2 separate regions of the Homo sapiens genome follow, and region 1 is linked to region 2. Evidence: fine-mapped expression QTL. A gene starts in region 2. The other region holds a variant in brackets. All regions are shown on one strand. Distances are from middle to middle. Region 1 has its middle 9.3 kb from the start of FRA10AC1. Region 2 holds the start of LGI1 (leucine rich glioma inactivated 1).

What was found. PIP is the estimated chance that this variant, and not a neighbour inherited with it, causes the effect. A credible set is the group of variants that fine-mapping cannot tell apart.
Region 1: its variant is the best candidate, but not a certain one, in a credible set for the expression of LGI1 in tibial nerve (GTEx, PIP 0.64).

What each region holds. Positions count from the first base shown.
Region 1 is chr10:93,709,165-93,714,546 of GRCh38, forward strand. No RefSeq gene overlaps it. Among named protein-coding and RNA genes, the nearest start is that of FRA10AC1, 9.3 kb to the left of the region's middle. RefSeq lists a silencer at 5,321-5,382. The variant A/AAAGT (reference allele first, on the strand shown) is at 2,575.
Region 2 is chr10:93,754,771-93,760,152 of GRCh38, forward strand. It overlaps LGI1 (leucine rich glioma inactivated 1), which reads left to right and starts at 3,166. Exons shown (of 8, transcript NM_005097.4): 1 at 3,166-3,589; 2 at 3,990-4,061. The coding sequence starts at 3,375. LOC101927013 (a long non-coding RNA gene) reads right to left here and starts at 2,947. Exons shown (of 3, transcript XR_246160.5): 1 at 2,711-2,947.

The sequences.
Region 1 (5,382 bases), 46 kb before region 2:
ATTCTCAAAAGACTTGACCAGAAAATACACAGACGAAAGATAGCCAAATGGCCAATGCACATAAAACAAAGCACGCATCTTTACTAGTTATCAGATAAATATCAAGTAAGCACACCACTACCACTACACACCCATCAGAATGGCTAAATGGAAAATACAAATCTGGTGTTGGAGAAGATGTGGCATGACTGTGACTCTTATATGCTGGTGATGGGAGTGTAAATTGGTACAGCTACCTTGGAAAAGATGTTTGATAGTACCTTGTACCTACTAATGCTGATCGTGCCTATCCTAGGTTTCATCAATTCCACTCCTCAATGTATTTCCAACAGAGAAGTGTATATGTATTCACTGAAAGACCTGAACAAGAATGTTCATAAGAGCTCTATTTGCATATAAAAATCCAGAAACAACCCAAATGTCCATCAGCATTAGAATAGTTAAGTAAAAGGTGGTTTATTTGCACAGTGGAATACTATGCAGCAATAAAAATCAACAAACTACAACTACGTGCAACAGCATGGATGAATCTCATGAGTATTGAGCTGAGCAAAAGAAGCATTACATATGAAAAAGAGTACATACAACAAATCCCATTTATATAAAAGACAAAACCAAATAAACAAAATGACAACTATGTGAGGTAATGTATATATTAGTTAGCTAGATTTAGTCATTCCACATTGTATATGTACTTCAAAACAAGATGTTGTACAAGGTAAATACTTATAATTGTATATGCCAATTCAAACAAACAAACAAAAGTAATCTATCTTGTTCCAAGTTAGGATAGTGGTTTCCCTGATGAGGGAGGGGAAGGGACTACAAAGGGATACAAGGAAGAAGGGGTGGCTTCTGAGGACATGGCAAAGTTCTGTTTCTGGTCCTGGTATTGGTTACATGAGTGGTTCATTCACAACCATAATTTGTGCACTTTTATGTATGAGTGTTATAGTCAATAAAAAGTTTACATTAAAAAACTTAATTGCTCCTAGGGGTTTTTAAAACTTTGGTAAATGGAAGTTTTGGTGATTTAAGCAACTTCAGGCGTGAAAGAACAGATTAGGAAGTGGATAGGTGGAATTTTCTGGGGCCTTGGAAATTATGCCACAGAAGTGCTTACATACTCAAAGACAAATTTCCTGTAGGCATTGAGACAGAGGCCTGCGGGAGCTCTGTAAATGCTGAGAAAGACTCTAGTCAGCATCCAAAGGACTGAAAGTTCCCGGGCCTTGAACACTTGGCAAGGTCAGCCTGCACTTTCTGTATATTTATAAGCTCAGATCTGGAAGAAGGTAGCTCCACACCTGCATGGTAAAGCTCGGTCCTTGAATAGAGACACAGCCCAATAGTGATCTGCAAGCTGGCCAAAGGTCAAGCCCTTGCTTGTGGAAATGGCTGGAGCAGGCTGCCAGAGAGGTTGCACTGCACAAATTCTGTGCCTGGAATGGACATTGGGAAGCAAAAGTGGAGAGACAGCAGTATACCAATTAGCCAAATGAATTGATTGTCATTTTTGGCCTGCTCCCAGGAGATGAGAACAGAGACAGGATGTCTGGTAAACCCCTCTCTGAGACAGTTGTGGATAAGGAGCCTTGTGATTAAGAGATAGGGAGACACTTACCGGGTCAGATGAGATGAGAGGCAGAAACCAGGAATGCTAAACATCACCGGGAAACTGATGCTGTTATTTTCTGTCATATAATATCTGCAGGTATGACGGTTTCATGCTTCACTTAGGAAAATGCAAAGTGGGGAGACCTACTGTAATAATCAAGGTTGAAGAGTGCTGTGTCTCTAGATCATTCCTCAAGGCCTCGCTGGGCCTGGGGCTATAATCATGGGAAAGACATCATTCCCATCTTCAAGACTCACCTCTAGGTAGGACACAGACACAGAAACAAGTAATTACAATACAATGGGGTGGGCAGTAATAGGAACAGGCTCAGAAAGCTATGGGGACACTAGGGAGGAGCCCCTAATCCTAAGAGAGAGCAGGAAAAGGCTTCAGAGACAGGACTTTACACTTGTGTTCACAATGCTGAAACCACAGTTTAACTCTGGGCTCCAAATTGTGCTGCCTTTGCGTCCAAAGGAGAGGGAGATATAGGACTTCCTTTCAGGCCTCCCACACTCACCAGTGATGCCCCACAGCCCCTCTCTCTATATAAGGTATAAGCAAGCTCCAAGTAGGAGTTGACCATATCACATGATTTCACAGTTTATGAACACCAAGTTGACCATGCAGACAGTGTGCTGGGATGATCAAGTAAAATGTACAGTGAAGTAGGTCATGTGTTTAAGGATACATGTCATGATTATTATGTAGTCAGGCAATTCGAAATAAACAGTAAGTAATTTTTCTAAATGATGCCTTGATTAACAAATTATCCGAAACTAAAATCTCTTTGGCTAGTTGTCCTAGTACTGAAAGTGACAATTGGTGGTAGGAAATAGAAATACTTAAACACCCACAGAAAATATAAAAGACTGAATAGATTCACGGAACAGTGGTGATTAGAAGATGGAATTTGTACTCCTCCTCACTTAGGCTGTATAAAAGTAACAGCACTC[A/AAAGT]AATACTTGTATTCATAAATAGAACTTTTTAAATAACAAATTTTATTGTCAGAACTTTTGTTGAACAGTGTAGGAGCATACAATAGAAACACAGGCCAGAACTGCTGGAGCAATCTACTTTTCAGGAGAAGTTAGAAATTTGGATTTTTAGATTTAGAAATTTGGATTTTTAGATTCAATATCCTGATTTTTTATATAGGCATCTAATTCAAGTTTAAAAATCAAAGCAAAACACCCTGTGGAAAAAACACTTCTGTGAGCTGAATTCAGCCCATAGGTTGCAAATTTCCAAGGCGATGATTCATTTCCCTCAGGACTGTGCCTTTAGCGATGGTGGTTTGGAAGCAGAGGTTATGACGCTGTCTCAGATGCATCTCTTGGGGGTTAGACAGGCTGCAGGTAAGCCAGGCATGGAGGCATGTGGACACCTTCAAGGGAAAAGTCAAAAGTCTTAAGCTCCCAGGAAAAGAGCCTTGAGACCCAGACCACAGCAAGGGGCAGTTCTTAAGTTCCTGGGCAGGAATATCAGTGCTGGTTGAGAAGATGAAGGTGTCACCCAGACTGGAGGGATGGAATTCACATCCCAGAGCACGTTGACAATATTGAATTTCACTGAAGCCCTTTGCTCCTGGAAGACAGTGATGGGTAAAGTAAACCCCTCCCATCCCCCCACACCAACCTTTTTTTGCACGTTCTAGAAAACAGCTTACTGCAAAAAACTGAGGTAGGAGGTGGGACTCAACTCTGGAGGTGGTGCTTGGACACTGGACCATATTGAGGACTAGCTAAAAGAGGGACAGAGCAGAAGCACCTCTCCGTAAGGCACGCCCACCTGTGTGCCATGTCAGTTTACCATTGCCATGGCAACACCCTGAAGTTACAGCCCCTTTCAGTTACAACTTGATGACCTGGAAACTACCACCCTTTTCCTAAAAATGTCTGCATAATCTGCCCCTTAATTTGCATGTAATTAAAAGTGGGTATAAATATGACTGCAGACTCGCCTTTGAGCTGCTACTCTGGGCACACTGCCATTGGTACCTCTGCTGCTGCTGCCAATGCTGGAACCTGCTGTGTCAATAAAAGTTGCTGTCTAAAACCACCAGCTTACCCTTGAATTCTTTCCTGGGTGCAGCCAAGAACCCTCCCCTGCTAAGCCCCAATTTTGGGACTCATCTGCTCTGCATCAGAACGACTCTTTCTCATATGACTTAGATAAGATGCACAGATGCCCTGTGTTTAACCTATGGCAAAATTAGATACAGACCGAACAAATTCTCATTCCTTACCTGATAAATGATGAGCTGAACTGCTTGTCCCCACTGAGCAATTGAACAAAATGCTTGTTAACCAAACTTTGATTCAATTTCTCTCCTTCCCCTAAGCCCCTGCACTTTGGCCCACCCCCACTCCCAGCCTGAGCCAGCACACAGCCCATCCTGAGAACAGGCTGGCCTCAGAGTAAGACATTGTATGGCCTACTATCCCATCAGGCCACCCTTTCATTCCCTTTTCCCACACCCTGTTGTTTTTAGCCTTGGTTACTTTTCTCTGTTCAAGAGACAGTCCCTTTCTTAAGGTCTCAGTATTTTCCCCATTGCAATAGTACACTTCCCCTACTGCAATAGTCCCTTTCTCTCCTGTAGTAATCTTTTTAAATAAAAGGTTGTCCTCACTAAGTGCAGATTTGCTTTTTACTTGGCAGTGTTCTTATGCATCCTATCCTACTTAGCAAAATTTCTGACAATAAGCATGCTGTCGGCCAGACGTGGTGGCTCGCACCTGTAATCCCAGCGCTTTGGGAGGCCAAGGTGGGCGGATCACAAGGTCAGGAGTTTGAGACCAGCCTGACCAACATAGTGAAATCCCGTCTCTACTAAAAATACAAAACTTAGCCAGGCATGGTGGCATGCGCCTGTAATCCCAGCTACTCAGGAGGCTGAGGCAGGAGAACCACTTGAACCTGGGAGGTGGAGGTTACAGTGAGTTGAGATCACACCATTGCACTCCAGCCTGGGTGACAGAGGGAGACTCCGTCTCAAATAATAATAATAATAATAATAATGAAGAAGAAGAAGAAGAAGCATGCTGTCGTGCTGCTGCTGTTGAAAACATTCTGTGTATGACCAGAACCATTATGTATAGGGTGCTGCCCTCTCACATGGCAAAAATTAAGTAGCAGCTGAATTGACCCCAGGTTACTGGACAGGGAGTGGCTAGAGGGCAAGAGTAAGGCCAGTAGTCCCTCTCGGCCTCCATGTCCCCACACTCAGTTCTCTTCTTCAGAGACTGCCTTCTCAGGCCCCTGCTGTTCTGTGGGGCTGGGATTGGTTGTTCTTTTCTATCTTATGCTATCAGCCATTTCCATGGCTCAAAGGACCATCTGCATGCCAATGTGTCCCAGTTTATATTAATACCTCCAGCCCAGACGTCTTTACTGAGCTCCAGACTCCCATAGTCACCTCCTCACTTAACATCTCCTCATGGCTGTCTCCAACTTAATATGACAAAAACTGAACTCTTACCTTCTGCTCCAAACTAACCCCACTTCTGAGACAGAGCAGAGGCCCCTCTTAGGCGCCTGCCATCAGTTGGAACTGATGCCCCAACTCAGTCACCTCTACCTTTTCCATGGTCACACAACTAGTAACTGAGCTGAAATGTGAACTAGGCTGCAAGACTAGGCCCCAAACCCCAGCGTAGAGATAAAGGAAAAATTTTGAATCCCTTCAAGGCAGATTCCAGGCACCTTTCAACCAGCAATTAGAGAAGTAAATGAATCACCCACAAAGCAAGAAGGTAATAATA
Region 2 (5,382 bases):
CAGAGGAGAAAATTGTGACTTAGGAAGGGTAAATCGGCCCATGGTCATATGGCTGGCAAAGTGCAGAGCTCAGCTACTCCTCTACAGCTCAGACTGGGCATTGAGCCTGCCTCAGCTAGGCCTCCTGGCTTCCCTGGGCCTCCTTCCAACTCTGCTTTAATCCTTTCCAAGCCCCTCTCCCCAGGGTCCCTATTGTGATCCACAAGTGGGTGGCCACACCTTATCTGAAGGCCTCCAAGATGGTGGAAACCCCTAAGCTTCCACCTCCTGCTTCCTACATCATCTCTGTGCTCCCTGGGGCTTCCTGGAGCAGTAAGATGGGAAGCATTATCAGCAATGGGGCCTCCTCTTCAGGCCTCTCAAGACTTCAATGCAGCGAACTGCCCTCATCTCCCCGAGTCTCTCCTCAGATCCAATTCTGGAGCCAGGAAGTGGTTTCTCCTCCCAAAAAGGCCGCCAGCATCCTGCATTACATGGTTAAATTTTGTCTGACCTTAGTGGGTGTTTTTAATTGAATAAAGAATTCAAGTCTGGGTTTTAAATGCCATAGAAAAATAAAAAGTTACTGTCTTTTCAGAATGCCCATTGTAATTTGTCCTTAGAGTTTCTCCTCCCCTCCCCTCCCCAATGGTCCTTTTCCCCCTTGAACTGACAAACTGAACTGCCAGATAAATACAGCTGCAAAGTGAATAGTATGGATATGATTTCTTCCCCTCATTCATTTGCCTTCCTAGCTTTACCAAGTCAAAAGAAAAAGACCGCTCACCCTTTCTTCGGCTGTGTCTTCATACCACAAAGCCAACAGCTAGTCAAGCAATCTTCATGATTTGAAACATTTGAAAGTGAAACACAGGGAGTGACTTAGCCTGATGGATTACATTAGTCATTGTAACCAAGTTTCTGCCATGGGGCTTACCCCATGCAGAGTGGTGGTCTCTGTGTGTCCTCTCTGTACCTCGGTTTCTCCATCTGTAATATGCAGGGATCGAATCCAGGATCTTTGAGGTCCCTGAATCTTCTCGATGTCTTCATTTTGTAGTTACAGAACACATCATTTACAAGTCAGTTGATTTAGAGGGTGACTTTGAATAAAAACAATCCTCCATAAAACTTTTACCACATAATTATTTTACGGAGCAAGTTTCCACTAGGCACTTGAAGCAGGGTTCAATTTACAAAAACCCGACTTGCAGCCAACTTTTAAGTGACACTTTTACTGTTTAAAGTGAGGCTTGCGCAGAGGTCACAGTTTCTAAAAACACTGCCCTCCATTCCCTCCTCCACAGAGTCCTTGACAGTGAAGCATTCGTAGAATACACTTTAAAATCATGACTTCTTGTCAACGAAGAGTTTTTCTTTTTCCCTTCCGTAAAAAACAACACACAGTATTTACAACCCCACAAAAACTGACTTAGTGATAATAACCTACTGGTCCTTTTGAAACACAAACCAGTTAATATCACTCCCCTGCCTGATTCTACAGAGGTGTCCCATTGCTCTGCAGATCATGAGCCAGACTTTATGTATGCCGTTCCCTCTACCTGGAGTGTTCTCACGAACCCTCTCTGTAACTCCTCCTTACCTCTGAACTCAGCTCAATCACTGCTACTTCAGGGAATTGGCCCCTGACTTCCTTGACTAGGTTAGATCTCTTTATTAGAACTGCAAGGTGCAACTGTAAGTTTATTTGGCTGGGCATGACCATGAATGGACTGTACACTCTGCTGTTGCTGGCATAGCCATCCAGGTTGCCCACTACATGCACAATGCTACACAGGCCCTGGGTTCCCTAGCGGGGTCTCTAACCTCGTGGACCTTGCAATCTTCTGGGGTAAACAGACAGTTATCAAATGTGAGAATGCACGTGAATGGCACTGTCCCCCGCAAAGAGTTTACAGAGAACTGAACAAGGGATTGAAGTTAGCATGGGGCCAGCTACATGAGCGAAAGGGTAGAATGGCAATGCTTTCAGCTCTGATGCAGAATGAGGTTATGTCAAAATCGCCTTTGCTCAAGCAGTCCTTTTAATACTTTCAGTCTAAGAAGCTAGAGGAGAAAGGAACGTGGACTGATATCCCAGGCTGTTCGTGCCAGCTTGAAGGATGGCCGCCTTCGCCATAGTGAGATAACCGGGGGTCTGTTTTCCTCATCTTCCTCCATCCCAAGGGTCTTCCTACTCTCTTGGACTAAACTATCCCACCCCAAGGCCAGGGGCTCTTGATTGCTTCTTTAAATGAATTTTCTTTTCCAAGGGCCCATCCGCTCACATCAAGTACACGAGTAACATAGCCTATCATTTTCATTTAATTCCAGAATGTCTTTACTATCATCCCCGTTTTACAGACAGGAGAATAGATTCAGCAAGTTCACAGCAGACCTGCGTTCTCAAAGCCAGGTGTCTGGTTCTCAGTCCAGCATTTCCCCCACCATGTCACAGCCTCGGGGCTGAGCCAGGCCTTTTTCAAAGCCCCAGGAAGCTAGAGCTGGCCGCCTCCTGCTGGCAGGGAGTTCCTTCCAGGCTTCTGGTGCTACTGCCAAAGAAGGGAGGGTGGGAGAAGAGAGGGAGGTGGATTATACACAGAGAGGGTCCCGCACTTCTGTTTCCCTTCCTTGTCATGGAAGGAGAGAATGAATTACGTGGGGGACCCAGGGGGATAGGAAAATCAATCATTCATGACAGTTAATAAGTGTCAGAAAAGTATGTACTCACATTCATCCCCTGAAAGTCACATTCTTCATCTGTTCTGATTTGTCTTTCACTGATGGCATTAGCCAGGTAGGCTCAGCAAGAAACATCAAAAGGTTTTAGCCCAATATTGTGGAGAGAGTTTCATTTAGCTTCATTTTTTCCAGCCGGGGCTGGCTCCAAAGCTAGTTTTTCTTACTAGGTTGTTTGCTACATGAAAAGCAGACTCCCAGAGGTTTCTGAGATTGCCGACATCCTATGCAAGATGACTGCTCCCACCCACCCGCCCACCCACTCACTAATAAGACATAATGCCGTCCTATTTTTGGTAACAATTAAAGGGCCTCCCGGTGAAAGCAGAAAGCTGTTTATTTTCTGTGACATCACTTCACTTTGCCTTCGAAGGCTGGTCTGTGCTCAGTGTTTTCGTGGTGATGCAAGTCGGCTCTCTCCTCCAGCAGTTGGATCCCTCCCATCTCACAGTACCTCACAGGTCTCTTCCCCCGAGCAGTGCATTGCTGGAGCGAGGAGAAGCTCACGAATCAGCTGCAGGTCTCTGTTTTGAAAAAGCAGAGATACAGAGGCAGAGGAAAAGGGTGGACTCCTATGTGACCTGTTCTTAGAGCAAGACAATCACCATCTGAATTCCAGAAGCCCTGTTCATGGTTGGGGATATTTTCTCGACTGCATGGAATCAGAAAGAAGCAAAAGGATGGGAAATGCCTGCATTCCCCTGAAAAGAATTGCTTATTTCCTATGTCTCTTATCTGCGCTTTTGCTGACTGAGGGGAAGAAACCAGCGAAGCCAAAATGCCCTGCCGTGTGTACTTGTACCAAAGATAATGCTTTATGTGAGAATGCCAGATCCATTCCACGCACCGTTCCTCCTGATGTTATCTCATTGTAAGGCCCGTAAGCATTTTGATATCTAATTTACGATTTAAAAATTCCAGCCGGTGGATTTGGGGCTTTGCATGTATTTGTAGAAGGGCATGGAGAGAGAGATTCCTCTTGCATGCTTGGCCATTTGACAGTGCTAACATTTGCTGCATTTAGAATTTTTGATTTTTTTAGCTGCTACTGAACATGCTTAGATACCCCCAGCCCTGAACATTATCATGAGAAACCTGTAGCCGATTCATTTCTCTTACTTCATCTGGGAAGGAATAGTATCGTACTTCATAAAATAGTGTCAAAATAGTCACTGTTATGCTAAACCGGATTAACATAAGGTTTGTTCTGTGTGTGTGTGTCTCTTTGTGTGTGTCTGTTTGTTTGTTTTCTCTTTTTTGTTTTCTTTCAGATCCTTTGTGAGATCTGGTTTTACTGAAATCTCAGAAGGGAGTTTTTTATTCACGCCATCGCTGCAGCTCTTGTGAGAAATATTTATATCATGACTATTTTTAATATGGCATATATTTGGATAAGCCTTCTAGTAAAATGATCTCAATATTAATTTTGTCAAATGTGATTCTATTTCTGAGAAAACAGAATATCCGTAAAGTGAGAGGTAGATGGGTTTGTTTGCGACTTCACACCAACAGTGCAGGTTGATTCTTACAATGGTAAATCTGTTAACCTGTCATGCTGTCTACTTTAATGGCTATTTATGAAGTTGTTGGAATCTTGCAACAATGATCCCAATTCCATTCCACTATTTTACTTTCATTTTTAACTTGGGAACTTGGGTTCTTTTGCCCTGGAGTTTTTGAATTAGTCAATACAGAACCCAGCATAACATATGCGCTCAAGATGTTGTCTCCGGGGATCTGGGGCAGGCTGCTACTCTGTATGATTTACCATGTGGGGAAAAAAAACACCTCAGCTCTTTCTAGGTAATTCCTTAAAATGTTAATTCTCAAGAGACTGTTTTTTAATCTCATCTAATTTATAACTAGTTCCATTACAAGGAGGGAAAGAAAATATTAATATAGGATAGTGCAAAGGATTACTCTCTGCTATATGTTTTGAGTTGGCCACAAGGGAACCACATACTCAGTCTATGCCTGAAAATATTCAAAAAAATAATATTTGACTAAGAAATCAGATCTGTTCACAGGCATAATGGAACACATAAAATTTGTTCTGATGTGTAATGTTTGGCAATTGGAGTCCTAGTCCTTACAGCGGTATCACATGGGGGTCAAGAGGTCTCCCAGGACTCAGGTATCAGGTCGCAGACTTGGTTTGTAGCTGGACGGATATGGGCAGAATTAGACAATTGTGGATCAGCTGAGTCTTGGCTATCTTAACTGCATGATTCAGGACCCAGGCCTTTCACTTGTTTGTTTTTTATTTTTTTATTTTCTTGCCTTACTTGGCCATTTTGGCTGTTTGAAGTTACATACACAGAGGCAAACAGCATGGAGTGGACGTTGGAGAGACAAGTGTTTAAACCTCACCCTGCCACTCATAGAACCTAAACATGTAGTCTTGTGCAGATTAGTATATCTCACTAAGCCTCAGTCTTCTTATCTTTAAAATGGAAGTGAGAACACATACTTCCAAGGTTTAAGTAGATAAAACACTTGGCATAGGGTGTGCCAAATGCTTACACATTTATAAATGGTAGGGTTTAAAAATTTTATATCAAGCTAAAAAGCTAAAAGTCACTCATCTATTGTTTTGTGTATATGAAATTCCTAAACTGGTTTGACTGTTTCATTGGATTCACAAACTTGATCAGTTGTTTTGAC